Linked DNA regions of Homo sapiens: all the other regions are linked to region 1. The links come from fine-mapping of genetic effects on gene expression. A gene starts in region 1. Each other region holds a variant in brackets. All regions are shown on one strand. Distances are from middle to middle.

Region 1 (10,538 bases):
GTCATTCAGAGTAGGTGACAGCCAGGAAGAGCACCCAAGGGTTTTGGCTTCCAATCACAGTACAAAACACACACCCTTCATCTGGGGAAAGTACCCTTGAGTCAGGCAGCAGCCAGACAGAAGCACCATCAGGGCACTGAGGCCCGAGGGCTAGAAGGGGAAAAATCAAGGGACAAAGAATAAAATCACAGAACAGCTGTTAAGAGTCTACAAGTGCTGTGATCCTATCTGAATAAAACGCAATTTAGATTCACTTAGTCCTGCATCTTGGTTAACCTTATATAACTTCTTCACATTACATCACTAAGAACAATTGCTTTTAATGGGCCCAGCACCCAGACAAGTGAGACAAACTTCACGTGCCATGATGCTACACCTAAATAGCTTTCCCCATGGAAATGCTGGCCAGCGTAGGAGCCAAAAATAAACTGCAAAGCCAATTCCCGAGGGACCTGTCATCAGGGATGTTTCACACACACAGCTTCATAAAAGCAGGGTGATCACAGACAGCCCTAATTTAGAGGCACTATATCTCAAACCTGGTGAAACCCTGAATGTCATGGCAACTTAAAACAAAAGACAATGCAAAAGAGATGAAAAAGCACAAGAAAGCTAAAGCATAAACGCTTTGCCTCCGAAACGAAGGCTGAACTTGAACTGACAGACAGCAGTCCTGCTCCCTTACCTCGCAGGGGGCTGTTCTGCCCAACCATGACAGGTGGAGACCAGAAGGACCCACCACGTCTAGCCAGTGCTCATGAAGGTTTAAGTGGCTGCTGGCATTTGGCTTTGTTACAAAATTTTATTCAAAGGATGACTGGTGATGGGGAAGGGGCAAGCCTCCTCTAAGGAGATCCATGGCCAGATGGACAGTTTCAAGTGGCTACCTCGCTGAACAGGTCAGAAGACTGGAGAAAGGAAGAAGCATATAAGAGACACTGGCCACTAGCTCCTTTTGAGTCCTTAAGAGGCTTAATTTTGGTGGCTGGAAGCCTCAGGAACACGACAAATTCCATAGCTTCATGGAAGAACTTACTTTGTTTCTGTTGCTATTTTCATGAAGGCAGCAGGGAAAGGACATGACTTGCTGCCCAGTCTCTTCATCTCTCTTTGTAAATTTGTTCACTAAAAACTTGAGACTAAGATTAAGCCTTTACTCATTGCCCTCCAATTTACAGAGAAAACTACAAAAATACGCCACACCCTATGAAACACTCCACATTAAATAGATACTACTAAAAAATTTCAATGGGGCAAGGCACTGTGGCTTATGCCTGTAATTCCAGCACTTGGGGAGGCCAAGGCCGGTGAATCACTTGAGGCCAGAAGTTCAAGACCAGCCTGGCCAAAATGGCAAACTGCCGTCTCTACTAAAAATACAAAAATTAGCTGGGTGTGATGGCGCATGCCCATAATCCCAGCTATGCGGGAGGCTGAGGCACAAGAATCACTTGAACCCGGGAAGTTGAGGTTGTAATGAGCTGAGATCGTGCCACTGCACTCCAGCCTGGGTGACAGAGAGAGACTCTGTTTAAAAAAGAAACTCACACACAAAAATTTTCAATAGGTAGCAGCTTATTAAAAAAAATAAGTTTCGGGCGGGTGCGGTGGCTCCTGCCTGTAATCCCAGCACTTTGGGAGGCCGAGGCGGGCGGATCACCTGAGGTCAGGAGTTCAAGAACAGCCTGGCCACCACGGAGAAACCCCGTCTCCACTAAAAATACAAAAAATTAGCCGGGCGTGATGGCGTATGCCTGTAATCCCAGCTACTCGGGAGGCTGAGGTAGGAGAATCGCTTGAACCCGGGAGGCAGAGGTTGCGGTGAGCCGAGCTGGCGCCATTGCACTCCAGCCTGGGCAACAAGAGCAAAACTCCGTCTCAAAAACATAAATAAATAAAAAATAAGTTTCTCAAAACCATCACTACTGTAGTCCCAGCTACCTGGGAGGCTGAGGCAGGAGGATTGTGTGAGACCAGGAATTCAAGGACACCTGAGTAACAGTGAGACCCCATCCCAAAAATAATAAACAAACCAGTAACTCAAAAAAAAAAAAAAATCTGCCACTACATTATTTTGTCAATAATTGGGTTCTCAAATCTCATAACTAGATTAGTCAATCTTGGTCTAATGGTCTTTCCTTTACGGCATACTATCACCTTGATGGAATTCATAAGGAGCAGGAGGTGAGAAGAAAAATCATCCTAAGCCACAGTTCTGCAAGGTCCCAGGACCCACCCTACCACCCTGCTTGGTGGTCAGTAACAGACCAGGAGACATTCAGCTAATCAGTCACCTGTATCTATAGCTCATGGTAACAGAGCTACCTATCAGGTATAAACTCCACCCTCCAAAACAAACCTATTCTAAATCCTAAAAGAACTATATCTTGCCACCCATAAATGGGCATCCCATTCCACCACTTCCTTGGAATTTCTGCGTCCCTTGGCTTTTGCTAAACCCAGATGCTACAATGACAAAATACCACCACCGAGCCACAAAACGGATTTCAACAAATTCAAAGCAAGTCACAGGAGGCCAGCTGCAAAATCTATCCAAAGTGGTGCCTCAAAGTTGTTGTTTTTTTTTTCTTTTCTTTTGAGACAGAGTTTAACTCTTGCTGCCCAGGTTGGAGTGCAATGGTGCCATCTCAGCTCACCGCAACCTCCGCCTCCCTGGTTCAAGCAATTCTCCCGCCTCAGCCTCCCGAGTAGCTCAGGTTACAGGCATGCGCCACCAAGCCCAGCTAATTTTGTATTTTTAGTAGAGACAGGGTTTCTCCATGTTGGTCAGGCTGGTCTCGAACTCCTGACCTCAGGTGATCCGCCCGCCTCGGCCTCCCAAGTGCTGGGATTACAGGCATGAGCTACCACACCCGGCCGTTGTTTTCGATTTAACTCCAAAATAGGTATTTCAAGTCAAACTCTGTATAATTACACATAGTGCAGGAGGCAAACGGAGCATAACTGCAAACAAAGTTAACCACCAAAGTCAAGACGGACGGGAACAACAACTGATAAACATAGCGGCTCCCAGTAGTGAGCTGGGCCTACCTCCCTGAGTCCTAGGGCAGGAGGCCACAACACAGAGGATGCTGCAGTCAAATGAGTTGCGTTCCAAAAATCACGAATCTCTCAAATAGATGGGTGGTGAAAAACATTCTTAAAAACTCACAGAAAGACACCAGCAATCATCTGGTGTCACACAGTATACAGCAATAACCCTCTTTTACTGACACAATACTGGGTAATTTTTAACAAGCATTCTGTTGCACAAAAGTAATATTTTCCAAATACTCTTGTAAATGGACTGATAATTTTCCTTCCAAGTCTCAGAGCTGTTGCCTGATTCACATTTCTCTGAGGGGAAGCAGGGTCCTGTGTGTGGATTTGTGTCTGTGGATGTATGTGCATCCCCAACAAAAAGACCCCGCTGGTATCAGCAGTCACTTCTGCCTCTAGGAAATGGATCATGTGCTCTTCTCTGGAGTGGGGCCTTTTTCCTTCTCAAGCCGTTGTCACAGACCCCGCTTTGTAGTTTGACATGAAACCCCGTTCCTCTGTAGTCTTTGTCTCCCACTGTGTGAGAAACCCAGATCAACTTCCAAAGTGCCCTCCCCTGAAATCAGACCTCTCAACCTCCCAAGGACCTAAAACAGCGTAGGCCTGATTCCTGCTTAGAAATGTTTTCTTGAAGGGGAGGGGAAGTAGGAGAGAAAGAAGGGGTGTGAGATACAGGGGGGTGTGTGTGTGTGTGTGTGTGTGTCAATTACTGATAGGAATTCACATTCTGGAAAACAAGCCACCAAACCAACCCGGGTTCAAGGTTTCGGGTTTATGATGACAAGCCTCTTTGTTTTGTAAAACTGCTATACTCACTAGCATCACCCCAAAAACCATACGGGAGTCAGATGTCTGCTTAACAGCTTCAGGTCAAGAAAAAACCTTCGGGTTTCCAAATTGGTGACTCCCCTCTACCCAGGGTTCTGGATTATTTTTTTCAAGGAGTCCATATGCACTTAGGAGTCATCAATCCCGGTCGCAGCTGTCAGAATCCTCCCCCCCAAGTACTATTCATACCGGGGCTCTGATTGCTAATGATTTTACTCACAAAGTTCCCTGCAGCAATTAAAAGGAGGCAGCAGGGTAAAACAAAAAGAGGCTGGGTGGCTTCACCATAATGCAGCCTGTAAGCTAGTGAACTTCTTGGGTTCGGCTGGGATTTTCACCTCTATCTTTGTTTTGGAATGCCCACAACCCCTCCCTGCACGGACCCGGCACGGCCTTCATTTCTGGATGCACAATGCAGTACCGAGCTCCTTGGGGGTCAGCAAAACGCCGCACTGGTGTAACGCCGAACGCGCCCCAGAACCTGAGTCCCCACGGGAGTCGGTCCACGTCTCTAAATCTCGAGGCCGACACCACAGCATAACATGTCTTAGAAGTCCCCTCAAGTCGGGAAGCCCAGGGCCCGCCCGGTCCCGGGCCAGCAGTGCCTGGCTGGCGTGTGCGCCCAGAGCTGCTGCAATGACTTTGCATGGAGTGTACCCTCCACTGGGGCTGTCCTCCCGCGTCGGCCACTGCAGTGGCACCGCTCCGGGCAGGGCCCTGCACGCCGTCCTTCCCTGGCCTCGGCCCGGCCGCCGACCCCCTGCCGCCCGCGCCGCCCAGCCCCCGCCCGCCGCACCTTGGTCTCCTTCACATGCTGCTTGACGCCCTCCGGGTACCACTGGACGCGCACGTAGCCGCGGCGCAGGGGGCTGGCCCGGCCCTCCTCGTGGCCCGCGCCCCCGGCCTCGGAGCACCCCGAGCTCCCGCGGCCCTCCTCCTCGCCCTCCGAGTCCGAGTCCTCGCCGTGGATGAGGCGCACCAGCCCGAAGTGCACGGAGCCACGGTAACGGCCCGACACCAGGTCGTGAGAAAACAGCAGGCGCTGCGAGCCGGCTTCTGGGCCGGAGTCCGAGGACGGCCCGGAGGCCGAGTCCGAGGCGGGCGCCGGCGCCGGGACGGGGGCTGCGGCTGGGGCCGGGACTGCCTCCGGGGCTGGAGCCGGGGCCTGGGCTGGAGCGGGAGCTGCGGGCGTGGGGGCTGCGGGATCCGCCATAACTGCTCTGCGCGAGTCTCGGGCGGCGGCGGCGACAGCGGCGGCGAACGAGGCGCGGGGAGGCGGGACCAGCGGGCGCCGGGGGCGGGGCCATAGCGCGCTGACGTGTCCCTGCGTGGCGCCGTCGTCAGGGAGCCGGGATGCAGTTGCTAGGAGCCACCGCCTCGTCGCTAGGGGACGCTGAAGATGCCGCGGGGGGCGGGGGCAGGATGGAATCCACTAAGAAGGGGCGAGACCAGTGAGGATTCAACTAAAGGGAGCGAGAAGGGGCGGGGACCCGGGAGGAGGAAGTGGAGTGGCCACCGAGGAAGAGGGGAGTGGTCGGGGTGGGGCACAGGATGGTGGAGAGACTGTCAACAACTTTTAATGAGCTCCCTTGGCGTCCTAGCCTAGCCCCCAGGCACTGGGAGCATTGCAGAAAGAGAAAGATACTGTCCCTGTCCTCTAGGTGTTTCCAGTCTAGTTGGGGAGACAAAACAAATACACATTAAATAGATAACAAACAACTCCAACTTGTAAGGCTATAATAGATACGTGTAGAGCATATGTATAATGCACTGTATTCAGGAATTCCAAGCAGTTCGAACGTCATGACCCCTCAGAAGTTGACCCAGAAGCTGGTGAAGGAGGCCCAGAGAAAGGTAACAAAAGGATCAGTGGTCCCAGTGGTTTGGCTACAAATCCATGCAGATAAATTCAAAGCTCCCTGAAGCCAAGAATGAATGGCAAGAGGTAGTATAGTAAGGTAGCTAAGAGTGGGGACCACGGATTCCAATTTTTGGCACTGCCACTTACTAATCTATAAAAATAGGCACACTGATTAACTTATTTTCATCTTAATTTGCTCATCTGTGAAATAGGGATGATAATAGCAATACTCATCTCATTGGGCAATTGGAGGATTAAGTGAAGTAGAACAGTGCCTGGCATTTAGCTCCTTCGATAAGCTTAACCATTGTTGTACTATTTCCAAACTCCCTGCCTAGACTAAATTCCAGACTGGCAGAACTGTTATGGTCTGCTCCATATTGTCATTTTAAAATATAAAAAGTAGGCCGGGCGCGGCAGCTCACACCTGTCATCCCAGTACTTTGGGAGGCTGAGGTGGGCGGATCACGAGGTCAAGAGATTGAGACCATCCTGGCCAACATGGCGAAACCCCATCTCTACTAAAAATACGGAAAAAAAAAAAAAATAGCTGGGCGTGGTGGCACATGGCTGTAGTCCCAGCTACTCAGGAGGCTGAGGCAGGCAAATCGCTTGAACCTGGGAGGCTGAGGTTGCAGTGAGCCCAGATCGCGCCACTGCACTCCACCCTGGGCAACAGAGCAAGACTCTGTCTCAAAAAAATAAATAAATAAAAATAAATAAAATATAAAAAGTAACTCTAGGGCCAGGCGTGGTGGCTCATGCCTGTAATCCCAGCACTTTGGGAGGCAGAAGCAGATGGATCACCTGATCACCTGAGGTCAGGAGTTCAAGACCGCCCTGGCCAACATGGCGAAATCCCTTCTCTACTAAAAGTACAAAAATTAGCTGGGCGTGGTGGTGTGCACCTGTAGTCCCAGCTACTTGGGAGGCTGAGGCAGGAGAATTGCTTGAATCTGGGAGGCAGAAGTTGCAGTGAGCCGAGATCATGCCACTACACTCCAGCCTTGGCAACAGAGCAGGACTCTGTCTCAAAAAACAAAAAACAAAAAAAAGGCTGGATGTGGTGGCTCTTGCCTGTAATCCCAGCACTTTGGGAGACCGAGGCGGGTGGGAGACCCGAGGTCAGGAGTTCAAGACCAGCCTGGCCAAGATGGTGAAACCCTGTCTCTACTAAAAATACAAAAATTAGCCGGGCGCGGTGGCAGCCGCCTGTAATCCCAGCTACTCGGAAGGCTGAGGCAGGAGAATCACTTGAACCTGGGGAGTGGAGGTTGTAGTGAGCCTAGATCGCGCCGCTGCACTCCAGCCTGGGCGACAGAGTGAGATTCCGTCTCAAAAAAAAGTAACTCTAGGCCGGGCACAGTGGCTCACGCCTGAAATCCCAACACTTTGACTGCGCCTGAAATCCCAACACTTTGGGATGCCAAGGTGGGTGGATCAGTTGAGGTCAGGAGTTCAAAACTAGCCTGGCCAACATGGCAAAACCCCATGTCTACTAAAAATCCAAAATTAGCTGGGCAAGGTGGCAGGCGCCTGTAATTCCAGCTACTTGGGAGGCTGAGACACGAGAACCACTTGAACCTGGGGGTTGGAGGTTGCAGTGAGCCTAGATCACACCACTGCACTCCAGCTTGGGTGACAGAGTGAGACTCTATCTCAAAAGAAAAAAACTAACTCTAATTTAATGTGTCACCTAAGTTTCAAAGGGTTTAGATACATTCTCAGAGGACAGATTTAAATGGATTGTTAAGGAAAACAAGATCTGGCCCTAACCTTTCTCAGTCAACATCATTTTTTCCACATTTTTCTACACGATCATCAACGAAAGACTAGTAAGTTGGATATTACAGTATTTAGGTTCTTCAAAGAAGGCAGAATCCCAGCTCTTTGTGTTGTTTACAGGATCCTGAAGATACAGAACTATGTTCATAGAAAAGTTGGTTGGGTGTGGTGGCTCACATCTGTAATCCCAGCACTTTGGGAGGCCAAGGCAGATGGATCATTTGAAGTCAGGAGTTCAAGAGCACCCTGGCCAACATGGTGAAACCCCGTCTCTGCTAAAAACACAAAATTAGCCAGGTGTAGTGGCGCATGCTTGTAGTCCCAGCTACTCGGGAGGCTGATGCAGGAGAATCGCTTGAACCCGGGAGCAGGAGGTTACAGTGAGCCAAGAACACATCACTGCACTCCAGCCTGGGCGACAGAGCGAGACTGCGTCTCAAAAAAAGAGAGAGAAAAGTTAAAAGAACATGCACAAGGTCGGGCACGGTGGCTCACGCCTGTAATCCCAGCACTTTGGGAGGCTGAGGCAGGCGGATCACTTGAGGTGAGGAGTTCAAGACCAGCCTAACCAACATGGAGAAACCCCATCTCTACTAAAAATACAAAATTAGCCAGGCATGGTAGCCCATGCCTGTAATCCCAGCTACTCAGGAGGCTGAGGCAGGAGAATCACTTGAACCCGGGAGGTGGAGGTTGTGGTGAGCCAAGATCGAGCCATTGAACTCCAGCATGGGCAACAAGAGCAAAACTCCATCTCAGGAAAAAAAAAAAAAAAAAGAACATGCACAAAACAGATGGCAGCCTAAGTACTTAAGATGTCTTAGGCCAAGTACTAATAGAGTATTGATGTAATATTGGGATCAGGGTGGTTGTCAATGGACCCAAATCTTAGAAAATTTATCTACTAAGATATAGAACAAATGGGCTGAATCAGCTGAAGGGGGAGTTAGGATATGATTTTGGGGCAAGGCTGGGTTCTCAAACCATGGCCTTCCCATCCCAGAACACAATGCCAAATGACCATCTGGAATCACTGCTGTAAGGACGCAGGTCCCTACTCCCTCTCCTGTAGAGACCTGGGAGATTAAACAGCAGTAACATAGTAGCTTCTGTTCTGCCTCCCATGACCCTTTCAGCCCTGTTTTCTTGCCCCCTGATAACATAGCATTTATTAAGCACATATTATTGACCAGGCATTGTACCAGGTACTTCCAAGCACATTATCTTGTCTGTTATCACAATCTTGGATATAGAGAGTTTTTAACCTCATTTTACCAATGAAGAAATAGGGCCCAAGGAATTTGGCGCCTAAGGTAACAGGTAGTAACCTGAGGAGTTTCCCCACTCTAAGGGCAGGGGCTTTTGTAGTTATGCTATTTCTTTAGGCTTCCCTCAGAAGAACTCCTGATTGCACAGGGGAGTCCATGTGTCTATGTGTCCCACGGCGGGATAAGGCAGTGCAGACCTCAAATCTGCTTTTTGTTTCATGGCAGGGTCTCACTCTGTCGCCCATGCTGGAGTGCAGTAGCGTGATCTTGACTCACTGCAACCTCCGTCTCCCAGGTTCCAGCGATTCTCCTGCCTCAGCCTCCTGAGTAGCTGGGATTACAGGCGCCCACCACCACGGCTGGCTAATTTTTGTATTTTTAGTAGAGACGGGGTTTACCATGTTGGCCAGGCTGGTCTCGAACTCCTGACCTCAAATGATCCACCCGCCTTGCCCTCCCAAAGTGTTGGGATTACAGGCATAAGCCACCGCACCCGGCCTCAAATCTGCTTTTGTTGTCAAAAAATCAAGTGAGTTTTGCATTGTACTCCAGAGTATGCCTATGTTTGTTGTTTTAATGTAAAAACTAATGCCCTTTCCTCCCTAATCATTGAGTAATATCGGCACTCCTGGAAGACGTGTTGTGTTTATTCTGCGGCTTCTTGTAATAATGGCTAATAATAGCTATCACTTATTGAGCTGTAACTTCATGCCAGATACTCTACTAAGTGCTTTACATAGATTATCAGGATACTGCCAGGTTGGAGGTAAGACTCCTTGATTTTACATGCTGATCTCTCCCTCACTAGACTAAACCCTTAAGCATGTGGACCATGTTGTATTTGTGTGTGTAACCCTGGTGCCTAGGACAGTACCTGGCATAGGGATGGAGCTCAATAATGTGTCGTATTAGGCTAGGCCCATACAGTGGCTCACGCCTGTAATCCCAGCATTTTGGGAGGCCAAGGTGGGTGGATCACCTGAGGTCAGGAGCTTGAGACCTGGCCAACATGGCAAAACCATATCTCTACTAAATATACAAAAATTAGCCAGGCTTGGTGGCGGGCGCCTGAAATCCCAGCTACTCAGGAGGCTGAGGCTGGAGAATCACTTGAACCCGGGAGGCGGAGGCTGCAGTGAGCTGAGATTGTGCCACTGCACTTCAGCCTGGGAGATAGAGCAAGACTCCGTCTTGAAAAAGAAAAAAAGAAAATTATCATGTTAGCGGATATCAAAGGCCTGAGAACCTGTACCTCCATTCTGTCAGTTTCCTATCCTTTTTCCAACAACCAAAAGTTGAAGAAGCTGGGACAGAGCTGCCCTCTTTGGCTGCTCCAAATCCTTTCAAGTGCCCCCAGTTTCAACTGCATCTGAGCTGCTTTAGAGAATGAGACTCAGTAAATTCCTACCCATCCGATGGTGTCTTTTATGGACCTCACTCAGACCCAAGATGCTCTGGATAAGGTTTGAGGCTTGACTCCTTCCCAGACCCTGAGCCCCCAGCCACGGTCTCCATACACTCAGGCTGGCTAGCAGGGTAAGTGTGGATGGAAGCCGCTGCTTAGTTTTTATTTTTGTCATTGTTGAGGTGTAGGAAGGAGGAAAAAAACTTGATTCCCTAATGAAGAAACCCTCTCTTATCATGGCCCCATCTCCCAGCCTTTCGTGGGGAATAGAGCTATTTCTTGGGAGGATTTCACTTATTTATAAATGTGCTTCCAGAAACTGAGCTGGTCT
Region 2 (10,538 bases), 28 kb before region 1:
TTGAAGACTTCCAGGCAGGAAGGCCATGCTGTGGCCCTGAGAACCCGATGCTCAGAGCTGTGACTAGAAGGGAGCGAGCTGGTGTGAAAGCGTGGCTCTACCCACGCGGAAACCTCAGAGTCTGAGAAAGAAGCATGCCGGCAGAAGGAGGCATGCCTGCTTGGCCCCATTCCTCGGCCATGGCCCTCGGGACCCTGGTGCTCCCTGCCCCTCCTTCATCACCTCCCTGCAACTGCGAATGCACAGAAGCATGACATAACCTTGGGGCAGCAGAAAGCTGCTGCCTCACTCCTGCCACAGCTCATGATCCGGAGCCTCACCCCTACCCAGCGCAGCAGTGGCCCCCTTCGCACCACACTCCCCCAAATGCCAAGCCTTGGCTGCTAATCAACAGCCACACTCTGAAAATGCACCGTACCTTCCTAGGCAGACTCATGCTGAAAAGGAGCCACTCAGCAGTGCTATTTTTAAAAATGCAAATATGGTAGGAAAAGGCAGTAAAAATAACACACAAGAGCCCTGATCCAAGGCCAGTTGTTTCCCCGGGGGCCAAGTTCCCACTGAAGTGGGAGCAGGGGGCTATGGAGGAGCAGGGGGCTATGGAAGTGCAGGGGGGCCTATCTTCCCACAGTGGTCCTGGCTTCCTGCATCGTTTTGTTTTCCTAATACCTGTGATTTTAGATCAATCCCAGTGGCCAGAAATGTTACAGACTCGCCCACATCTTTACCCAAACACACCACCGAGCAACCCTACATGCAGGCCAGGAGAACCTACACTAGAGGCACTGGCAGGTTTCATGACCCACCCTGGAATGACTATGTCAAAACAATGATGATTCTCCACTCCTTACAACTCTGTAACTACATCTTTGCGAGACAAACTGGGCTGGGGCGCTGCAGACATTTCTTTTTCACAGAGAAGCAGGAGCTTGATAAAGGCATGGGAAGCCAAGGAGGAAGAGACACAAGACGTCCTGGGATCGAGTGCAAGCTGGGGTCTTGCACCACCAGGTGTTGGTCCTGCCAGCATTCAAAATCGGCCTGCCACACACTGTTTATGTCTGTGGCCACAGAAAGCCCGAGACAGGCTGACCCCAGTGAGTTGGCAGGGACGGCCTTGTCACTCACCCCCCTAGACTTCCAAATGCTAACCTTGACAGTAGGAGTCCTCCCTTTCTTCAGCCCCCCACATCCCTGCAATTAGGTCAGGACAGGATCAGGTAGTCTGCTTTCTAAGCCAAGATTTCCAACAAAAATAAATACAAACACATAGCAGCATGTATTTGGGCTGAGTTCCTGGTAAAAGGCATGGATGGGAAAGTGAACAGGACTCAGCACCACCCATTTGCTAAGTGGGTGCAGTCCATCAGTACTGCAGACTTCGCTCCAAAAGGCCGTTGCTCCTCTGACAGGAAATGGGAAACTCACAGCTACAGTGAGCTCCCTAGAGCTGAGCCCAACCGTAGGGAAACACTGCAGAAAGAAGTGACGGCCTGCTGTCAGCGCTCATGGCTGACACCACATGGTCACCATTCTTCCAGATACTGAAACACTGGAGTCACCCACATTAAAGACACTAGAGCATGGAACATAATTTGAGTGACTATTTTCTTTTGTCTTTTTTTTTTTGAGACGGAGTTTCGCTCTTGTTGCCCAGGCTGGAGTGCAATGGCGTGATCTCGGCACACCATAGCCTGCTTCCCCGGTTCAAGCGATTGTCCTGCCTCAGCCTCACAAGTAGCTGGGATTACAGGCATGTGCCACCACGCCCAACTAATTTTGTATTTTTAGTAGAGATGGGGTTTCTCCATGTTGGTCAGGCTGGTCTTGAACTTCCGACCTCAGGTGATCCGCCCACCTTGGCCTCCCAAGGTGCTAGGATTACAGGCGTGAGCCACCACGCCCGGCCCTGAGTGACTATTTTCTATTTTCCCAGGGATGGAGTAATTAGCACCATTTGAGATCCATTACAACTGGTAACTGATGCCTTGGGACTGCTGGCTGAGAAGGGCTTGTGGCCTTTCTTTCATGGAGTAAATGCCACGTGCTTCCCATTTCTCCCATCCTGGCTGGCTCTATTTCCCTCAGTCACTGGGTCCCAGGAGGAAGTCAACAAGTCGCTGGCCAGGAGTCTGGAAAAGACAAGATGACGCCACCAGACTGCATCTGAGGACCCATCCCCTCTCCAATGGATCTGCATCCAGAGTGCTCAAGGACCACAAATCCCAGGTGGAGGAAAATGGGAAGATGGAGATGTCTCAAAGGATCTGCTGTGTCCTTCCTTTAAGGGACAACCAAGCCACAGGAGGGTCAGGCAGGCCTGTGGTGATGTTTTTGAGACCTCTATGTGTGATAAGTAATGGGACGTGTGCTAAGTAACCCCAAAATGCTAGTTCTCGTGGCCTCTCTCTCCGGCTTTTCCTCAATGGCTCCCAACTATTTCAGTCACTCCACTCATTCACAGCCTGAGTGGTCCTGAAAGGGAAGATGATGTGTGGAAGCACGACCTAAATGAACAACACGGGGAGAGGGCATGGGCAAAGGGCGGCTCACTTTAACCTGGCTTTTCCCAGGCTGAGCTCAAGTCCCATCTCTCCTCCAGCAAGGGCTTGACACAGACACAACCTGCTCTGTCATAAGGTCTGGGCACCCAGTGGCCTCTTCCTCCCGTTCATCATATGCTGTAGACCATCCATTCAGTTGTTCCCTCGCCCATTCAGCAAACTGAATAACCACTGGGTGGGCAGACGCTGTGCCAGATGCCAATGAAACATCTGGAACACGAGACAGTCCTGCAGGTGTCCGAGCAGGACGGAGGTTCCATCTGCAATGAAGCCGAGGCACGCCAGGCTTGGGGAGGTGTGGCCACCACAGGGAACAGCCATGGCTCAAATGTTCCCCCAGATAGCTGCACCCAAGTTTCTGCTCAGATGTCACCTCCTCAGAAGGGCTTCTCTGGCCACCCTGTCTGGAATTGCTCCTCCTCATTCTCTATCCACCTGCTTTATTTTTCTTCACAGCACTTACTGTTCCCACACCTGCAGTCTGTGTGCCCCATGGGGGTTAGAATGTGAACCACACAAGGGCAGGCACTGGGCACCAGTGCACCCCAGCAAGTGCCTGGAACACAGAAGGGTGCCTCTGAGGAGTCACTAGAGACAGCTGAAGGAAAAGCCATGGGAATTGGGAACAAGTGTCAAGAAAGGAGTGGCTAGCAATGCCTGATGCTGCTGAGAGATCCAGTGCCACGGGGAAGTGTCCCTGCTGACCTGGGCTCAGCAGTCCCAATGGGTGGCGTGGGCAGAATCCCCAATGGCGGGGCCTGGAGAACATCTGGCAATGCAGGAAACAGGAATCACAGCATGGAGCTCATTCAGGAACTACGGCTGAAGAGCAGGAAAAGGAGGAAGAGGTAGGTGAGGGGGTGGATGTGGGCTGAGGAAGGGTCTCTTTTCAAGACATTAAAAATGGGGTCAAGCTGGGCACGGTGGTACGCACCTGGAGCCCCAGCTACTCAAGAGGCTGAGGTGGGAGGATTGCTTAAGCCCAGGAATTCGACGCTGCAGTGAGCCCTGATTGTGCCAATGCACTCCAGCCTGGGTGACAAGAGTAAGACCCTATCTCTAAAAAATAAATACAGTAAAAATAAAAATGAGGGCCCGGCGTGGTGGCTCATGCCTGTAATCCCAGCACTTCGGGAGGCCGAGGTGGGAGGATCATGAGGTCAGAAGATCAAGACCATCCTGGCTAACATGGTGAAACCCAGTCTCTACTAAAAATACAAAAAATTAGCCAGGCATGGTGGCACGTACCTATAGTCCCAGCTACTTGGGGGGCTGAGGCAGGAAAATCGCTTGAACCTGGGAGGCGGAGCTTGCAGTGAGCCGAGATCACAACACTGCACTCCAGCCTGGGTGACAGAGGGACACTCCATCTCAAAATAAATAAATAAATAAATAAATAAATAAATAAAAAATAAGGTCAGGCAGGAAGCTGCCAAGGGAGAGCCTGAAGATTCAGGCCCAGGACATAATTGATAGAGGTGGCCTACGGCACAGTGTCCGCAAAGGAACCAGAACACAGGAGAGGAGACTTCCTCTCTTCACACCAGGTGGCTCTCAGCTACTTCCAGGTTGGGTTCTTTTTTTTTTTTTTTTTTTTTTTGAGACGGAGTCTCGCTCTGTCACCCAGGCTGTAGTGCTAGTGCAGCGGCGCGATCTTGGCTCACTGCAAGCTCCACCTCCCAAGTTCACGCCGTTCTCCTGCCTCAGCCTCCTGAGTAGCTGGGACTACAGGCCCCCGCCACCATGCCCAGCTAATTTTTTTGTATTTTTAGTAGAGACGGGGTTTCACCATGTTAGCCAGGATGGTCTCGATCTCCTGACCTTGTGATCCGTCCGTCTCGGCCTCCCAAAGTGCTGGGATTACAGGCGTGAGCCACCGCGCCCGGCCTTTTTTTTTTTTTTTTTTGAGACAGAATTTAACTTTTGTTGCCCAGCCTGGAGTGCAATGGCACAACCTAGGCTCACTGCAACCTCTGTCTCCCAGGTTCAAGCGATTCTCCTGTCTCAGCCTCCCCAGTAGCTGGGATTACAAGTGTGAGCCACCACACTCTGCTAATTTTTTGTATTTTTGTAGAGACAGGGTTTCACCATATTGGCCAGGCTGGTCTCGAACTCCTGACCTCACGTGATTCGCCCACCTCAGCCTCCCAAAGTGCTGGGATTACAGGCGTGAACCACCGTGCCCAGCCCACTAGTATTTTTTATATTCGTTACATTCTGAAATGGTATCTTGGATATATACTGAGTTAAATAAAACATTAAAATTAATTTCTGGCTGAGTGAGGTGGCTCATGTCTGTAATTCCAGCACTTTGGGAAGCCAAGGTGGGAGGATTGCTTGAGGCCAGGAGTTCAAGACCAGCCTGGGCAACAGAGTAAGACCCTATCTCTACATAAAAAAATGGCAGCAGGATCCCTTAAGCCAGGTGTTTGAGGTTACAATGAGCTATGATCGAGCCACTGCACTCCAGCCCGGGCAACAGAGCAAGACTCCATCCACCTCTACCTCCAAAATTAATTTCACCTGTTTCTTTTTTTTTTTTTATTTTTTATTTTTTTTTTTTGAGACAGAGTCTCGCCCTCACCCTGTCACCCAGGCTGGAGTGCAGTGGCGCGATCTCAGCTCACTGCAAGCTCCGCCTCCCAGGTTCATGCCATTCTCCTGCCTCAGCCTCCCGAGTAGCTGGGACTACAGGCACCCGCCACCACGCCCAGCTAACTTTTTTGTATTTTTAGTAGAGACGGGATTTGACCATGTTAGCCAGGATGGTCTCGATCTCCTGACCTCGTGATCCACCCGTCTGGGCCTCCTGAAGTGCTGGGATTACAGGCGTGAGCCACCGCACCCGGTTCACCTGTTTCTTTTAATGTTTTTAAAATGTGGTCACTTCTCAAGGTCCTTTCGACAAAAAAAAAAAAAAAAAAAAAAAAAGTAAAAGAAAAAAATGTGGTCACTAAAAAATTTTAAAGGACCTACTTGGCTCATAT[T/G]GTATTTTTTTAAATAATAGTTTAGCTTAATTGTATCAAAACAATGCATGCCTAAGTTAAAAAAAAAACATAGTACTAAAAGGCTTAACAAAAACAGGCAGTCCCCCATCTTACCCTCTCAACTGTGCTCTTTTGAAGCAAATACTTTTTAATTTTTTAGCTGTTTGAATATTTACCTCCATACATATAAACAACATGCTTGCACCCTAATTCCTAACTTATTATAGACATTATCTATTGACGTCCTGTTTTGGTACCTGATGACCTAACTCTTACCCTCCCCTCTGAAGCCCTTTGCCTGTACTCCATCCTTTCAACAGTTCCACTGCATTAATTGAAAAATCTAAATGTGTTATGATGGAGGACAGAGCTCACAGCTGAACCAAGTGGTGTTCCGTGTCCTCACACAACTATGTACATATTGATACTTTTGTCAAATACCTATCCATAACTTTTCTAAATATCTTCAAATTACCTACAAATTATCGATCAGGTATCTTTGGGCTTTGTGTCTTTTTCTTGTCGATCTCTCTCCCTCCTGCAGAATTCCATCCTGTCTCTCTAACTCAGACTTTCCTCTGCCGCTCACCTGTGTCAGATCCCGTTTCCTGGATCCTGGGAAAAGTCCCTGGTTTTGGTGAAGAACAACTCCTTCTATCTCCTCCCCACAAGAGGTTCACAGGAGGCACTTTTTTTCCAGCCCTTACATGCCTAAAAGGAGGGTCTCACTCTGTCACCTAGGCTGGAGTGTAGTGGTGTGATCATGGTTCACTGCAGCCTCAACCTCCTGGGCTCAAATGATCCTCTTACTTCAGCCTCCTGAGTAGCTGGGACTACAGATGCACAACACCACACTTGGCTAATTTTTGTATTTTTTTGTAGAGACAGGGTTTTGCCATGTTTCCCAGGCTGGTCTCGAACGGGGCTCAAGCGATCCTCCTGTCTTGGCTTCCCAAAGTGCTGGGATTACAGGCGTGAACCACCATGCCCAGCCAAAAGAACTTTTTTCTACTCTACTTGACGTAGTTGGGCTGGATACGGAATTCTCTCAGAATGTTGCAGGATTTGCTCTGCTGTCTTCCAGTCTGAGTACCTGTCTTAACTGGCACATATAATTGTTTACTTTCATTGTGATCCATGTGGATTTATTTCTACTACCTTTAGGGCTTTCTGGCTACCATATTTTTTCTTTGCTCTCTTTCTTTTAGACAAATGACCTAGTTTTAAAATTCCATATTTTTACCCTCTGTGAGTTTGAAAGCTTTAAACACTATTTCTATTCTTTTGGTGGTTACCCTTAAAATTGGAACATGTCTACTTGACTCAGAAAGTTTGAAGTCAATCAATATCCCTCCTACACTTCCCAAACAGTTCAAAGAACTTAAGAGTGTGTTCATTCAAATCACCCCCTCACTGATTTCCATTTTTTGTTGGGACTTTGGTTTTTAATCCTCTCCAAATTAGTGACGATCACTTTCAGAAGCGAATGCTTATTCAGATTTACCTGCACTTCCCAACGCCTCTGGATACCATTACTGTCCGCATTTCTCCTTTCTCCTTACTTCCTTCTTCCCGAAGTACAGCGAAGGTCTCTTAGTAAATACAACTTTTTTTTTTTTCTGTGAAAATGTCCTTATTTGTTCCCATTATTGAACGATAATTTAAGCTGGTTGCTGAAAACTAAGCCAACAACTGATTTTCCTTAGCACACTGAAGATTTTACTTCCTTATGGCCTCTACTGTTGCTACTTGGCATTTCCTGAGTTTCACTGTTGAACCTGGGGAGTAATCTGCCTTTCTTCTCAAGCTGCCTTTAGGATGCTATTTTTCCCACTGGGCCCTCATACCACCATCCATGTTTGTAATGTCTCTTCCTCACAAGCATCTCTTTTATCTCTGCAGAATTCTAACTAACTTCTGCAGATCTGTTTTCCAGTTCCCATAGTTCTCTCTTGAGAATTTATGCTATTTGCTGTTTAACATTTCCACTGGGGTTTTAACTCAATGTTTTCACTCTAGAGGCTTTATTTGATTCTTTAAAAAATAATCCCTTTTAAGATGTATTCTGTCTTATTCTTTCCTTTGACATCTATTTCTTCTTTTAGCCCTTCAATCACTTTAGACATTTCTATTATAATCTCTTCTATTATTTGAATTCTCATGTTGAGAATCTTGTGTTTGTTGTGATCGCTGACTCATGTTCTAATTTCTACATGCTTGGTAATTTCCTAGAACAAGCTCATCATCTGTGGGCATCCTAGGATTCCAAAAGGCCTGTACTGTGCAAGGGTCACTCTAGAAAAGTTCTGCCTTTGTTCTGCAAGCAAGAAGCTTCAGGGGTATCGCCAGTCTGCTGGCTGGTCTGGTGCCAGCTCGGGCATTCCTGCAACATGTAGATGTTATAAACACAGACTTAGAACTTGGATGTTTTCCACTGTTCACAGAAGACTTCCTCCAACACAATCCAGAGTGTGGGGCAATGATCAGCTCCCTTGACATTTCTCTGATCCCATGGGGGAAATTTTCTTGCATCCCTTTTACCTGGGAATGGCTCTTTTGAGGGGATTTCTGTTTCAACTCCATGCTTCACGTGTTCATGCAAATCCAAACCTCTATTATTGTTAGGGTCGATTTCAGGGTCCAATGAACCCACCTTGCCCCTCCCCAGAGCTGCCTACTCTGCTCTGGCTTTATATTCCTGCTTTGCTTTCGGTTCTCTGTTTTTCTTTCTTATTCTGTTGTTATAGCTTATATAGCATTTTAAGTGATTGTAATGGGAGCGGTTCTAACTTTAGCTCAAGCTACCATGTCACTGAAACAGGAAATCCACCCCATTGTCTTCTGGCTTCCAATGAGGTTGAAAAATCCAATCCATCTTCATTCCCAGTCTTTTGTATGTGACCCGTTTTTGCTCTTCGGAAGCTTTATGCCCAGTGCTCTGGAATCACACAATGTGCCACAGGACATTTTCCATTTACCATTTTTGAAACTTATGACTGTCCATTCTGAAATAATTCTTGTTTCTCTGATACATTATGGTCCTTAATTTTCCCTTTCTCTCTTTATAGACTTCCTAGATGTCAGACGTTTTTAATCTGTTTCCTGGGAGCCTTCGTCAACTTCAAAGAAAAAGTAATGGTTTTAATTTCCGAGAACTCTTTCTTGTTCTGATTTTTATAGTAACTTTTTATTTCATGGATAAAATATTGGCTCTTCTTTCTGAGTATATTTGCCATGTGCTTTAAGGCTTTCTCCTACCTGAATCAGCTCTGATTCCTCGGAGATACATTTTTCTCTTTGCTTTCTCTGGCCTCTACCTTCCATACTGGAAGCTTTCTGAACATATCCAGTTATTCTTGGCATCCATTCCTATTTAAAAGTGAGGCAATAAGAGATCTTTGTGGTGATGGAAGAGTTGTGTATCTTGACTGCTGTTACATGTGGTTACATGAATCCACAGATGTGATAAAGGGTGTGAAACTGTATGCACATATTGTGTACCCATGTCAATTCCCTGATTTTCATATTGTCTGTGATTATATAAGACATGACCATCAAGGGAAACTGCATGAAGGGTAGAGGGGACCCCTCTACTATTTTTTTTTTTTTTTTTGAGATGGAGTCTTGCTCTGTCGCCCAGGCTGGAGTGCAGTGGCATGATCTTGGTTCACTGCAACCTCTGCCTCCTGGGTTCAAGCAATTCTCCTGCCTCAGCCTCCCGAGTAGCTGGGATTACGGGCGCATGCCACCATGCCCGGCTAATTTTTGTATTTTTAGTAGAGACGGGGTTTAACCATGTTGGCCAGGCTGGTCTCGAACTCCTGACCTCGTGATCTGCCCGCCTCGGCCTCCCAAAGTGCTGGGATTACAGGCATGAGCCACCGCGTCCAGCCAGCCCTCTACTATGTTTGCAACTTCCTATGCATCTATAATTATTTCAAAATAAAAAGTTGGGCTGGGGATGGTGGCTCATGCCTGTGATCCCAGCACTTTGTGAGGCTGAGGTGGGCAGATCACTTGAGCTCAGGAGTTTGAAACCTGCCTAGGCAACATGGCAAAACCCCATCTTGACAAAAAACACACAAATTAGCCAGGAGTGGTGGCGCATGGCTGTAATCCCAGCTACTTGGGAGGCTGAGGTGGGAGAAGTGCTTCAGCCTGGGAGGCAGAGGTTGCAGTGAGCCAAGATTACACCACTGTACTCCAGCCTGGGTGACAGAGTGAGACTCTGTCTCAAAAAAAAAAAAAAAAAAAAAAAGTTAAAAAAGTTGAGGTGATAAAAAGATGATAGAAACCCTGTGAACATAAGCAAGGCTCTGGACAGGTGAGGACCACATTAGATGGAGTAGAAAGCTGGCCACTGCTGTGAGGAGCCACTACATACTGGCAATGGCAGGTCTTGTTGCTGACATGCTCATTTTTTCCAGACTGGAATCCAATGCCATGCCTCATGCCTGGCCTCAGCACTCCAGGAGCAGGCAGGGGCATGGCTGGGATTTGCTCTTTTAGTGTGCAGACGTTCATGAATCCCTCTTTCAGTCCAGCGTTACCCTGCCCCTTGCTCTGCCCAAGGTACCTCAATCTGGTGCATAAGCCTCTGCTCTCTCACTCGCCAGCAAAGGGGATTGAGTATTTTCTGGTTTGCAGAATTCAAAGAGATGACTTGGGAAGTTTCATCCCTCCCTATACAGACTGTCAACTAATCATAATCCCTCTGCTTTTAGGCCCAAACCTTATTCCCACCTTGAGTGCCACCAATTGCCTCCAATTCCTGATGCTTTCTAAAGTGCTTTTCCTTGGTGTTTTTCCGCAGGTACCAACATTTCAGCCTCTGCTCTGCTCAGTCTTCTGTTTGCCTTCCACCTTCTAGAAATTGGAGATCTTTTGTTATTGTTTTCTCTCCCATTCTGTGTCCTTGTGGGTTTATACATCTAAAAACAATTATTTTGCTGTTATTTTAGCAGAGTTTCTAGGGGAAGTAGATTTA
Region 3 (10,538 bases), 61 kb before region 1:
TTCATTGCTGATGTGGACCTAGAGAGTGAGAAGTATCGGCGTCTGGGGGAGATGCGCTTCACTCTGGGCACCTTCCTGCGTCTGGCAGCCCTGCGCACCTACCGCGGCCGACTGGCCTACCTCCCTGTAGGAAGAGTGGGTTCCAAGACACCTGCCTCCCCCGTTGTGGTCCAGCAGGGCCCGGTAGATGCACACCTTGTGCCACTGGAGGAGCCAGTGCCCTCTCACTGGACAGTGGTGCCCGACGAGGACTTTGTGCTAGTCCTGGCACTGCTGCACTCGCACCTGGGCAGTGAGATGTTTGCTGCACCCATGGGCCGCTGTGCAGCTGGCGTCATGCATCTGTTCTACGTGCGGGCGGGAGTGTCTCGTGCCATGCTGCTGCGCCTCTTCCTGGCCATGGAGAAGGGCAGGCATATGGAGTATGAATGCCCCTACTTGGTATATGTGCCCGTGGTCGCCTTCCGCTTGGAGCCCAAGGATGGGAAAGGTGTGTTTGCAGTGGATGGGGAATTGATGGTTAGCGAGGCCGTGCAGGGCCAGGTGCACCCAAACTACTTCTGGATGGTCAGCGGTTGCGTGGAGCCCCCGCCCAGCTGGAAGCCCCAGCAGATGCCACCGCCAGAAGAGCCCTTATGACCCCTGGGCCGCGCTGTGCCTTAGTGTCTACTTGCAGGACCCTTCCTCCTTCCCTAGGGCTGCAGGGCCTGTCCACAGCTCCTGTGGGGGTGGAGGAGACTCCTCTGGAGAAGGGTGAGAAGGTGGAGGCTATGCTTTGGGGGGACAGGCCAGAATGAAGTCCTGGGTCAGGAGCCCAGCTGGCTGGGCCCAGCTGCCTATGTAAGGCCTTCTAGTTTGTTCTGAGACCCCCACCCCACGAACCAAATCCAAATAAAGTGACATTCCCAGCCTGCTCGTCCTGTCCTGGTGACTGGGGAGAGAATGGGTTCTCGTTCTGGCCGGGACTATAGAATTTAATGGTAATGATGGCCAATGGTGCCCCCTGGGATGGGCAATGGATTTTACTGGCCCCAGGCATAGTCATTCTGGTGGGGGACTCAGGACCAGAGCTGGTTCAGCCTAATGGTGGGGGGGCCTCTACCACCCTGATAATTATAGCACCTCCAACCTGAAGCAGCCTCAGAGCTCAGCCAGCTGCCTGACCACACACAGGATGCAGCTCGGAGCTGGCATGTCTCAGCCAGGGCCACACAAGCAGCTAGTCCCAGCAAATCTCATCAGAGCCCCATGTGGATTTAGCAGGAAAGGGGAAATATCTGAGTTAAGGGCATTAGAAAACTGATGGGCCAGGCGTGGTGGCTCACACCTGTAATCCCAGCACTTTGGGAGGCTGAGGTGGGTGGATCACTTGAGCCCAGAAGTTTGAGACCAGCCTGGGCAACATGGTAAAATCTCATCTCTACAAAATGTGCAAACATTAGCAGGGTGTGGTGGCGGACACCTGTAGTCCCAGCTACTTGGGAGGCTGAGGCAGGAGAATCGCTTGAGCCCGGGAGGTTGAGGCTGCAGTGAGCCGAGATCGCGCCATTGCACCCCAGCCTGGCTGGGTGAGACAGAGTGAGAATGTCTCAAAAACAAAAACAATAAAACCACTGGCCACCGCCCCCGCCCCCCCCCAAAAAAATTGGCAAGGAGCAGGAGACCTCAGAAGTAAAAAATGGCAATATCTTGCTTTTTTTTTTTTTTTTTTTTTTTGGCTCACTGCAACCTCTACCTCCCGGGTTCAAGTGATTCTTGTGCTCAGCCTCCTGAGTAGCTGGGATTACAGGTGCATGCCACCATGCCCAGCTAATTTTTGTAGTTTTAGTAGAGATGGGGTTTCACCATGTTGGCCAGGCTGATCCCAAACCCCTGACCTCAAGTCATCTGCCCGCCTCTGCCTCCCAAAGTGCTGGGATTACAGTCATGAGCCACCACACCTGGTATCTTACCTTTTTAAAAGGAGTCTGTCATCCACCACAATGGTCTAGGGTTCTAGGGTTCTCCCAGCCTCCCTCAGCTGTCTCCTTTCCCTACCTGTCCCTGTGGAGGAGTGCCAGGCAGGAGTGGAAAGAATGTGGCAGGGAAGGATCCATCCAAGTCTAAACTGGGCAACCATTTTGGCTTAGCGTCCAGGAGTTGTGGCACCTGTCCACCGCCAGGTGCTATGACGTCGGCTCTCCCAGAACCTGGAAGGAGCTGAACTGGTCAGTTGTAGGTCTCTGGAGACTACAGCTGCTGGGAGGCTGCTCTAAGCTGGCTCCTGAGGGGCACACCACCGGCCAGGAGGAGGCCAGAGGACTGCTCCAGGACAAGAAGTACAAAAGGCATGCAAGCAGGTCTGGCAGGCAGAGGGCAGTGTGGGCGGGTGGGGGTGCTGTTCACAGTGGCCCCCACCTGGCCAGGAAAGCCAGGACCCACTGCCACATGCCTTCCCTGGCAACAAACAAGGTCTTTCCTTCCCCAGGAAGGGTGTGTGTGAGGGACACAAAGGCAACGGAGCCCAGATGAATGGCAGAGGGAGGTTTAATGGTGTCACCTTGTCTTGCTAATGAGCCAACACAAAAAAAAAAAAAAAAAAAAATGCAAGTAAAAAAAAGTTTAATCACACAGCACTTTATACAGATATCGTAAGCAGTAGGCATTCACATCTCCACATGTACAATGCACTGGGAAGCACAGCCCCACCAGTCACTCCGGGTGTTTCTCAAACAAGATACCGACTCGGTTCCAAATGCCACGGTGTGTGGTCCGGCTCCATCCTCCCGCAGCTCTGCTGGCTGGGCGGTCACAGCACAGCACAGGTGTGGAGCCCACTTAAGGCTGACAAGACGCATCATGCTTTGGCTTTTTTTTTGTCTTTTTTTCTAATAAGAGTTAATATCTTTGCTTTTGAGTTTTTTTTCCAACCTTAAATATTACATACATACACCAAAAATTACATAGCTGCAATGTGCTCAACAGCATCCTCTCGGCCTGGAGCTTCACATTATCAAAAGCTTAGAAAACTTGTAAACCTCTGGGCCTGTCTCTGGGCACTAGGAGAGCCCCCGCCGGCCGTCCCCTTCGGATTGAGCCTGCAGTTTGTAAGCGAAGGGCTGACAGTAGGCCTTCTAGTCCAAGAGAGGGCTGGCTCGCTTGGAGTTCAGTGAGCTGCACGCCTGTCCCAGTGTGACCATGTGATGGGGGAGGGGCCCTAGCACTTGCCCTGGCCTTGTGCAGCTGCTCTTGCCCCCAGCAGCCTCCGACAGAAGAGCAAGGCACCTATAGCTGTTGCTTTCCCTGCAGCTCCCTGGTCCTCAACTCCATGTGCATGTGTGAAGGCCACCACCTCTCCTGGGCGTCACCCGGAACCTAGCCTGGTCCCAACCTCTCTTAGAGAGCAAGTTCAACAGGCCTGAGGGCTATAACGTGGTCGACAGGCCATGTATAGCCGGGAGTCAGTGACAGCAGCTACAACTCCCAAGGGATAGTGTTGACGCTGGAGGACTAGGGAGGACCTGGGTGGTGGTGGCAGCAGGAGGGTCTGGGACACAGGGAGGCTTGAGTTGAACTAAACAGGTTGAAAGGGACCAGGGGAATTGTTGGCGCAACCCACACTTCATGCAAGGCACATGTGCTCTCCTGCGGGTCTGCAGGGAACCGGCCCAGAGAGCCCCGCGGCAGGCCCTGGAACACCCGCCTCTGACCTGAGAAGGGGCAGCAAGGGAGCAAGTGCCGGACATTCTGCTGGGGTGACAAATGGAAAATCGGCAACAGGGTTCCGATTTTCTTTGCCACAGGGGACCCGCCTGTTGAAAGCTCGCTTCAAAATAGAAACGGCAGCATCTCAACACACTTCTTGCACTTCAGCATCAAACTCACCTTGGGGAGAAGAGGGCAGTGGGTTTGCAGTGGGGACAGAGGGGCATGGGAAGAGGGGTGATTCCGGGGGGGAGTGAGCAGGCGGCGGCTGGCCTCTCCCACGGTGATGCTCTTTCCTCTGTGCCTGGCAGCTACTTGTCCTCTGTGCACTCCGGCATGCCTGCCTCTAGCAGGGCAGCCCGGAACTGCGTCAGGACACCCCGGATGCTCTTGATGAAACCCTTGGAAAGTGGGAAGAGGGGGAAGCCGATGTCAGGGTAGCCACTCTTCTCAGGTAAGAAGCTCCGGTAGCTCTTTCTCCGCTTCTTTGGTTTCACACTGGGTGGCACCGATGCGTCTGGTGCGGTCTCCGAAGTCTGGTCTGTGTGGTCCCTGCTAGCTGAGGCCAGGCCCTGGGCACCGCCCTCTGAGTCTGAGCCCTGGGAGGCCTCTCCTGGGGCTGGCCCTCCATCCTCAGGTTCTTGTTGGCCGGAGTCTGACAGCTCGGCTACAGCTGGGGGCTCTGGCGAGCTGCTGGCCTTGGGCACCCCGTTGGGCAGTGCCTGGGCCTTCTCCAGCAGGGCATGGGTTTCCAGCCAGGACTCGATACGGTTCACCAGCCGCCAGCCACCAGTGCTAAAGTGTTGCCTGATCTCCTGCTCAAAGACCTCGGGGGGCCGCCGCACCAGCTGGGTCATGGACTGCACCACGCGGATCAGCGCCATCTCATTGTAACAGCGACTGTTTTCATAGCCTTCCTGCAGGCCTCGGTCACTGTCGAAGCCGGCTTCGTTGTAGTATGGTTCATTTACCAGGATCAGACCTGTGTGGGCGGGACACCTTCCCTCAGTGGGTGAGAGAGGCCCACAATGCAGGCCTACCCTCCACCTGCCAGGGGGACTATCAGAGTCACTTTCCTCCACCGGCCCTCCCTTGTCCGCACCCCCGCTTCAGCCCAACTGTACCTTGGATGGAGATGAGCACCTGGAGAAGGCTGGACTTGCTTGTCCACCTCTCTGTCCCCTGAAACACACAGGGCACCATCAATTCTGTTCCCCAGGCCCCTATCCACCAGTGGCTCTTCCTCCTTCTTGGCTGGGGGCCTGGCCCTATACTCACCTTTCCAATCCAGGTGCCCAGGAGGCTGACACACACCTTCCCATTGTCATACAGGTTGGGGTTCAGGCGGCCACTGCATTGGGAGAGGTAGCAGAAGTGGGGGGGCACGGCTGGGTAGATGTTGGGGAGCTGGATGTCAAACAAGTAGAGGCCATCCTCGTAGGGGGTTCGAGTGGGGCCCTTGATGAGAGCTGAGAAGAGGTCCTAGGTAGGGAGGGAGGGAGGGAGGCCAAGGTTGGCAGGGGTGGAAGGGGGTGTCCTACATGTGGCATCTGCATCTGCACCTGCTCTTTCCCAGGACACTGTGCAGATCACGCAGGAAGAGCAGCACCTGGGACTCCAGATGCCACCAGCAGTGGAGAAGCTAAGGACAAATCTCTCTCTGCAGAACAGCCTGGAATCTTTTTTTTTTGAGACAGGGTCTTGCTGTGTCCCCCAGGCTGGAGTACACTAGTGCAATAATGGCTCACTGCAGCCTCCCAAGTAGCCGGGACTACAGTGTGGGCCACCGTGCCCAGATGATTTTTTTATTTTGTGTACAGACAGGGTTTCACTATGTTGCCTAGGTTGGTCTCGAACTCCTGGGCTCAAGTGATCCGCCTGCCTCGGCCTCCCAAAGTGCTGGGTTTACAGCCCTGAGCCGTCACTGTGCCTGGCCCTTGCCTGGAATCATTGAACCCTGGCTAAGAGAAATACTCGAAGTGAGTTTTTATCTTATCAGGTGTTTTTCCTCATAAATCATTACTTTAAGACTGTATTCCAGCTGGGCGCGGTGGTTCGTGCCTGTAATCCCAGCACTTTGGGAGGCCGAGACGGGTGGATCACTTAAGGTCAGGAGTTCAAGAGCAGTCTGGCCAACGTGGTGAAACCCCGTCTCTACTAAAAATACAAAAATTAGCCAGGCGTGGTGATGCATGCCTGCAGTCCCAGCTACTCGGGAGGCTGAGGTGGGAGAATTGCTTCAACCCGGAGGCGGAGGTTGCAGTGAGC[C/T]GAGATTGTGCCATTGAACTCTAGCCTGGGTGACAGTGCGACGCTATCTCAAAAAAAAAAAAAGATTGTATTCCTCAGCCAGACGTGATGGCTCACACCTGTAATCCCAGCACTTTTGGGAGGCCAAGGTGGGAGGACTGCTTGAGGCCAGGAGGTCAAAACCAACCTGGGCAACATAGTGGGACCCTATCTCTACAAAAAATAAAAAATTAGCTGGGCATGGTGGTGCATACCTACAGTCCCAGCTACTCAAAAAGCTTAGATGGGAGGATCACTTGACTCCAGGAGGCTGAGGCTGCAGTGAGCTATGATCACACCACTGCACTCCAGCCTGGGCGACAGAGTGAGACCCTGTCTTTTATTTTTTGGCTTATGTGTTTTTTTGAGATGGAGTATAGCTCTGTCCCCAGGCTGGAGTGCAGTGGTGTGATCTTGGCTCACTGCAACCTCTGCCTCCCAGGTTCAAGCGATTCTCTGCTTCAGTCTCCTCACGCCCGGCTAATTTTTTGTATTTTAATAGAGACGGGGTTTCACCATGTTGGTCAGGCTGGTCTCGAACTCCTGACCTTGTGATCCGCCCACCTTGGCCTCCCAAAGTGCTGGGATTACAGGCGTGAGCCACCACGCCCGGCCAACCCTGTCTTTTAAAAACAAAACAAAACAATTCCTCTAAACACCTGCTCCAACCCTTATCCCCAACAAGGCAAGTAGTACAAGCAGTTTCAAGCTGAAAGGCAGTTCCAGGCTGGTGAGGCCTGGGGAAGGGGGGATGGTCTCACAACCAGAAGCTGACAGTGAGGGTTTGAACTCCATGGGGGAGGTTGGGAGACCACCGCTCCACAGACATCTGGAATCTGTGCATCTATTTGCGTGCATCTGTGCACACACGCGTGTGTGTGGGATCTCAACTGACAGGGCAATGGGCGAGGTCAGTGATGAGCTGAGAAGCAGGGAAGGCAGAGCGCTAGCTGGGGCGAGGGAACCTCTGCACATGCTCTTATCGGTGCCACCCTGGGAGCCTCCAGGGAATGCACTACTTTTCTTCTCCTGAGTGAGATGTGGGGAAAACAGAACAAAACAAAAAATACTGTTTCCATCTTCCCTCAGCAGAGCTGAGACAGGCTAGAATTTTCAAAAGGAATTTTCCTACAACCCAAGAAAAAACCAAAAGCGTTATTAAGAATCTCAAGCAGCACTGGGCCTTAGGACTCTGCCTAGCCCTGTTCCAGGGTTGTGGCTACTCCGGGCCCATCTCAACAGCATCCCGCTTGGCTGCTCTCAGGATCGCTTGGCTGCTCTCAGGATCCCTGCTCTTTCTTTTCTTACTCCCTTCCTTCCAGGACAGGGCCAGAACTGGGGCCTCAGACTCAGATTCAGAGTCTAGCATAGTGCTTGGCTCGATGCACAGGCCCAGTAAGGGACTGCGGAGTCAACAAGGTGGCAGGCAAACGGGCTTGCCTGTTCCGGAAGGATGCACTCAGCGCTGCCTCAGTAAACATGACTCAGAGACACTAGGCCCCGTCCACGAACAGAGGAGTGGGAAAATGGAATGTGGTGTGGCCACATGCTGTCATCCTATTTTGCAGGTAAAAAGGAAGAAACTAGATCATTATGAATCAACACAGGTTGGTCTTAAGCAAATTAGAGATGATGTGTACGACGACATATTCTGTGTGTAAACAAATCATACAAAATATTATGTACTTATGGTGATACATGAAAATGTAAAAATATTTTTTTAGTGTATAAATAATGTAAAAGTATAAAAAAAAGGTCATCCGTTTGGAAGGAGACCCACTAAACTTCCAACAATCCTCTGGGTGTGGGAAGAGGCCTATGATTCGGGGAGAAAGGGAAGTGAGGTCTGGTCAAAGGCAACTTTAGCTCTTCCATTTCCACTCAAAGGATCTGTAATGTTCTAATTTTTCAAAAAGAAAAGTAGGCTTGAGGAGTAATCATAATATAATTAATTTCAAAGTAATTTTTTTTTTTTTGAGATGAAGTCTCGCTCTGTTGCCCAGGCTGGAGTGCAATGGTGCGATCTTGGCTCACTACAACCTCTGCCTCCCAGGTTCAAGTGATTCTCCTGCCTCAGTCTCCCGAGTAGCTGGGATTACTGGCACCCGCCACCACATCCGGCTAATTTTTGTATTTTTAGTAGAGACAGGGTTTCACCGGGTTGGTCAGGCTGGTCTCAAACTTCTGACCTCAGGTGATCCACCTGCCTCGGCTTCCCGAAGTGCTGGGATTACAGTCGTGAGCCACCGCACCCGGCCTATTTCAAAGTAATTTTTTTTTTTGAGACAGAATCTCGCTCTGTCACCCAGGCTGGAGTGCAGTGGCGTGATCTCGGCTCACTGCAAGCTCCACCTCCCAGGTTCACGCCATTCTCCTGCCTCAGCCTCCAGAGTAGCTGGGACTACAGGCGCCCGCATGGTGGCGGGAGAGTTTTTTGTAATTTTTTTTTTTTTTTTAGTGGAGACGGGGTTTCACTGTGTTAGCCAGGATGGTCTCGATCTCCTGACCTCGTGATCCACCCACCTCGGCCTCCCAAAGTGCTGGGATTACGGGTGTGAGCCACTGCGCCCGGCCGAGAAAGTAATTTTTTAAAGGAGGGAGGAAAGAAAGAACCATCTGGCCTGGACACACGGCTGAGTCAGCCCTCACCTGACTGAGCCTGTGACCGCCCCTGTAAAAGGTGGGTGGGTGAGTGTCCTCGCAGGTGCCAGTCAGCCCCGGAGGTTTGGGGACCCAAGGTTGGTGGCCTCTTGGGCACTGGGTGCCCACACAGCACATCTGCACCTGCCCATGCCAAGCCTACTTGCCATTCTATCTTCAAAAGTCTTGACCATGATGCCCTCAGGCAGTGAGGTAGCCAGCAGCGCCATCTCCTTCCGCACTGTGCTGAAGAACTTCTTGGCTTCTGGAGGCTGGAACTCAATTTTCTTAAAAGAATGATTTGCTAGAGGGGGGAAGAGAATAGTCAGTCCCTCATGGAGAGGCCCTGGAGCTCCATCTGCCAACCTGGCTGGACAGGTGAGCACACCCACAGACTTCCCACTCGCCGCTGCTGGCCTCAGCACTGTGACCACACAGGGAAATGGTTTGCCCTGGGGCAGTAGCTGGGGTCTGGCGAGGGGACTAACCACCCTGCACCCAGATCTGGTGACACAAACAGGAGCCCCGAGAAGGCGGGGGAAGGCGAAGACCAGGCAAGGGCTGACTCACAGGGTGCAAACTCCAGTACGGAGAAGACCTCGCCCTTGGCGCTGGTGAAGGTGACGCCAGGCTTGCCGCCACACTGCTGGCACAGCACCGGGGTTTCGCTGGGCCACTCAGCCTTCACAGGTGACTGCCCCTCGGGCTTGTCCTCCTTGCGCTCTACGTCGGGCACTGCTTCCATCTTCTCCTCCTCTACAATGGCCACATTGTCCAGGGTCTTCTTGAGGTTTTCCTGTAGCTTCTTGATGTCATCCAGAAACTTCTTCTCCCGAGTTGGCTTCTCAGGCTCCACAGTCGGAGAGGTGGGCGAGCCCGTCAGCAGCTGCTCCACAGTCATGTTCTTGAGGCTCTCCAGGATCTTGATGGCCTCTTTCAACTCCCGGAAGCTCTTGGGTGGCCCGTCCTTGCCAGCCTTCTCCATCAGCCCGGCCATGGGGGCAGCCATGGCCACAGCCCCCTGGACGGCAGCTGTGGCTGCCTCTTCACTGATCACCACTCCCTTGTCCTCAGGGGCCACCGGCTGCTCCAGGGGTGGGATGGGGGGCTCCTCTATCTTGGGGTGCTCGTCCTCCACCAGCCCATTGTCCGTCTCCCAGCTGTCACTATCATCTTCCCATTCATCCGAGGATGCCCCGCTGGTGCTGCCTTCTACCGAATCGTAGTCTGACTCCTCAATCTCAGACTCTATGTTGTACAAGTGCTGGGGGCAGAAGGGAAGTGCCAGGGTAAGCAGACAGGAAGTCACCTCCCCACCACTAAGGAGGAGCTCTGGGGATCCCTGATCCGCACAGCTGATGGCGACTGGGCTCATGAGGCCTTGGCAACCTCATTCCACCCTTTCCCTGACCTCTGCTCTGGCTTTTGCAGTCCCTAGGTCTCTGGGAGAGGCCCTTCACCTGTCCCACCCTCCAGCTGGACCCAAAGCCCCAGCCAGTGGTCTGTTCCAGCCTCTCCTCCTGCTCTGTGCACTTCGTCAGCATCTGTCCAAGGCGTTAGGGGACCTTGGCAGGCCCAGTCCCACACCTGAAAAGCGCAGGGTCAGCTAATGATGCAGCCAAGGAGGCCTGTGTGGGGAGCTGGGAACATATGACAAGAGGGGACATGTAGAAGGGCCGACATATCCTGCTGCGTTCCCTGGAATGGCCGTTAAGGTGATGGGGCAAGCCATTCCCGCCCCCACTCCTGCCCCCTGTGTGGACCAGGAGAGGAGAGCTGGGCTGTGTGGCTCCAACCAGGAGGCGAGGGAAGGAGAGCCCGTGTAGCCCTTCTGCTCAGGACCCAGCAGGTGGGGCTAGAACTGGGTCGGCTCTCTCCTTTCTCTCCTTCTCTGTTAGAGCTTTCTAAAAAGGGTGGTAGGAAAGTCT

Direction of the effects. Alleles are on the strand shown, and positions count from the first base shown. SD is a standard deviation of normalised expression in the study named.
In carriers of allele G in region 2, the expression in lymphoblastoid cells of the gene that starts at base 5,112 in region 1 tends to be lower than with T alone (moderate effect, 0.43 SD a copy in GTEx).
With allele C in place of T in region 3, the expression in whole blood of the gene that starts at base 5,112 in region 1 is lower (small effect, 0.11 SD a copy in GTEx).

The links. PIP is the estimated chance that this variant, and not a neighbour inherited with it, causes the effect. A credible set is the group of variants that fine-mapping cannot tell apart.
Region 2: its variant is the best candidate, but not a certain one, in a credible set for the expression of UBE2O in lymphoblastoid cells (GTEx, PIP 0.64).
Region 3: its variant is the best candidate, but not a certain one, in a credible set for the expression of UBE2O in whole blood (GTEx, PIP 0.65).

The regions. Positions count from the first base shown.
Region 1 is chr17:76,448,041-76,458,578 of GRCh38, forward strand. It overlaps UBE2O (ubiquitin conjugating enzyme E2 O), which reads right to left and starts at 5,112. Exons shown (of 18, transcript NM_022066.4): 1 at 4,685-5,112. The coding sequence starts at 5,101. It also overlaps a transcript of AANAT not described here. RefSeq lists silencers at 4,464-4,663, 4,784-5,323, 5,118-5,286.
Region 2 is chr17:76,419,756-76,430,293 of GRCh38, forward strand. All of the region lies in intron 1 of UBE2O (ubiquitin conjugating enzyme E2 O), which reads right to left. Among named protein-coding and RNA genes, the nearest start is that of UBE2O, 28 kb to the right of the region's middle. RefSeq lists enhancers at 2,780-3,281, 3,282-3,781. The variant T/G (reference allele first, on the strand shown) is at 5,552.
Region 3 is chr17:76,386,948-76,397,485 of GRCh38, forward strand. UBE2O (ubiquitin conjugating enzyme E2 O) reads right to left here. Exons shown (of 18, transcript NM_022066.4): 14 at 9,181-9,874; 15 at 8,778-8,914; 16 at 4,963-5,166; 17 at 4,809-4,866; 18 at 2,509-4,666. The coding sequence ends at 3,996. It overlaps SPHK1 (sphingosine kinase 1), which reads left to right. Exons shown (of 6, transcript NM_001142601.2): 6 at 1-908. The coding sequence ends at 639. Among named protein-coding and RNA genes, the nearest start is that of SPHK1, 7.6 kb to the left of the region's middle. RefSeq lists a silencer at 3,789-3,963. The variant C/T (reference allele first, on the strand shown) is at 5,953.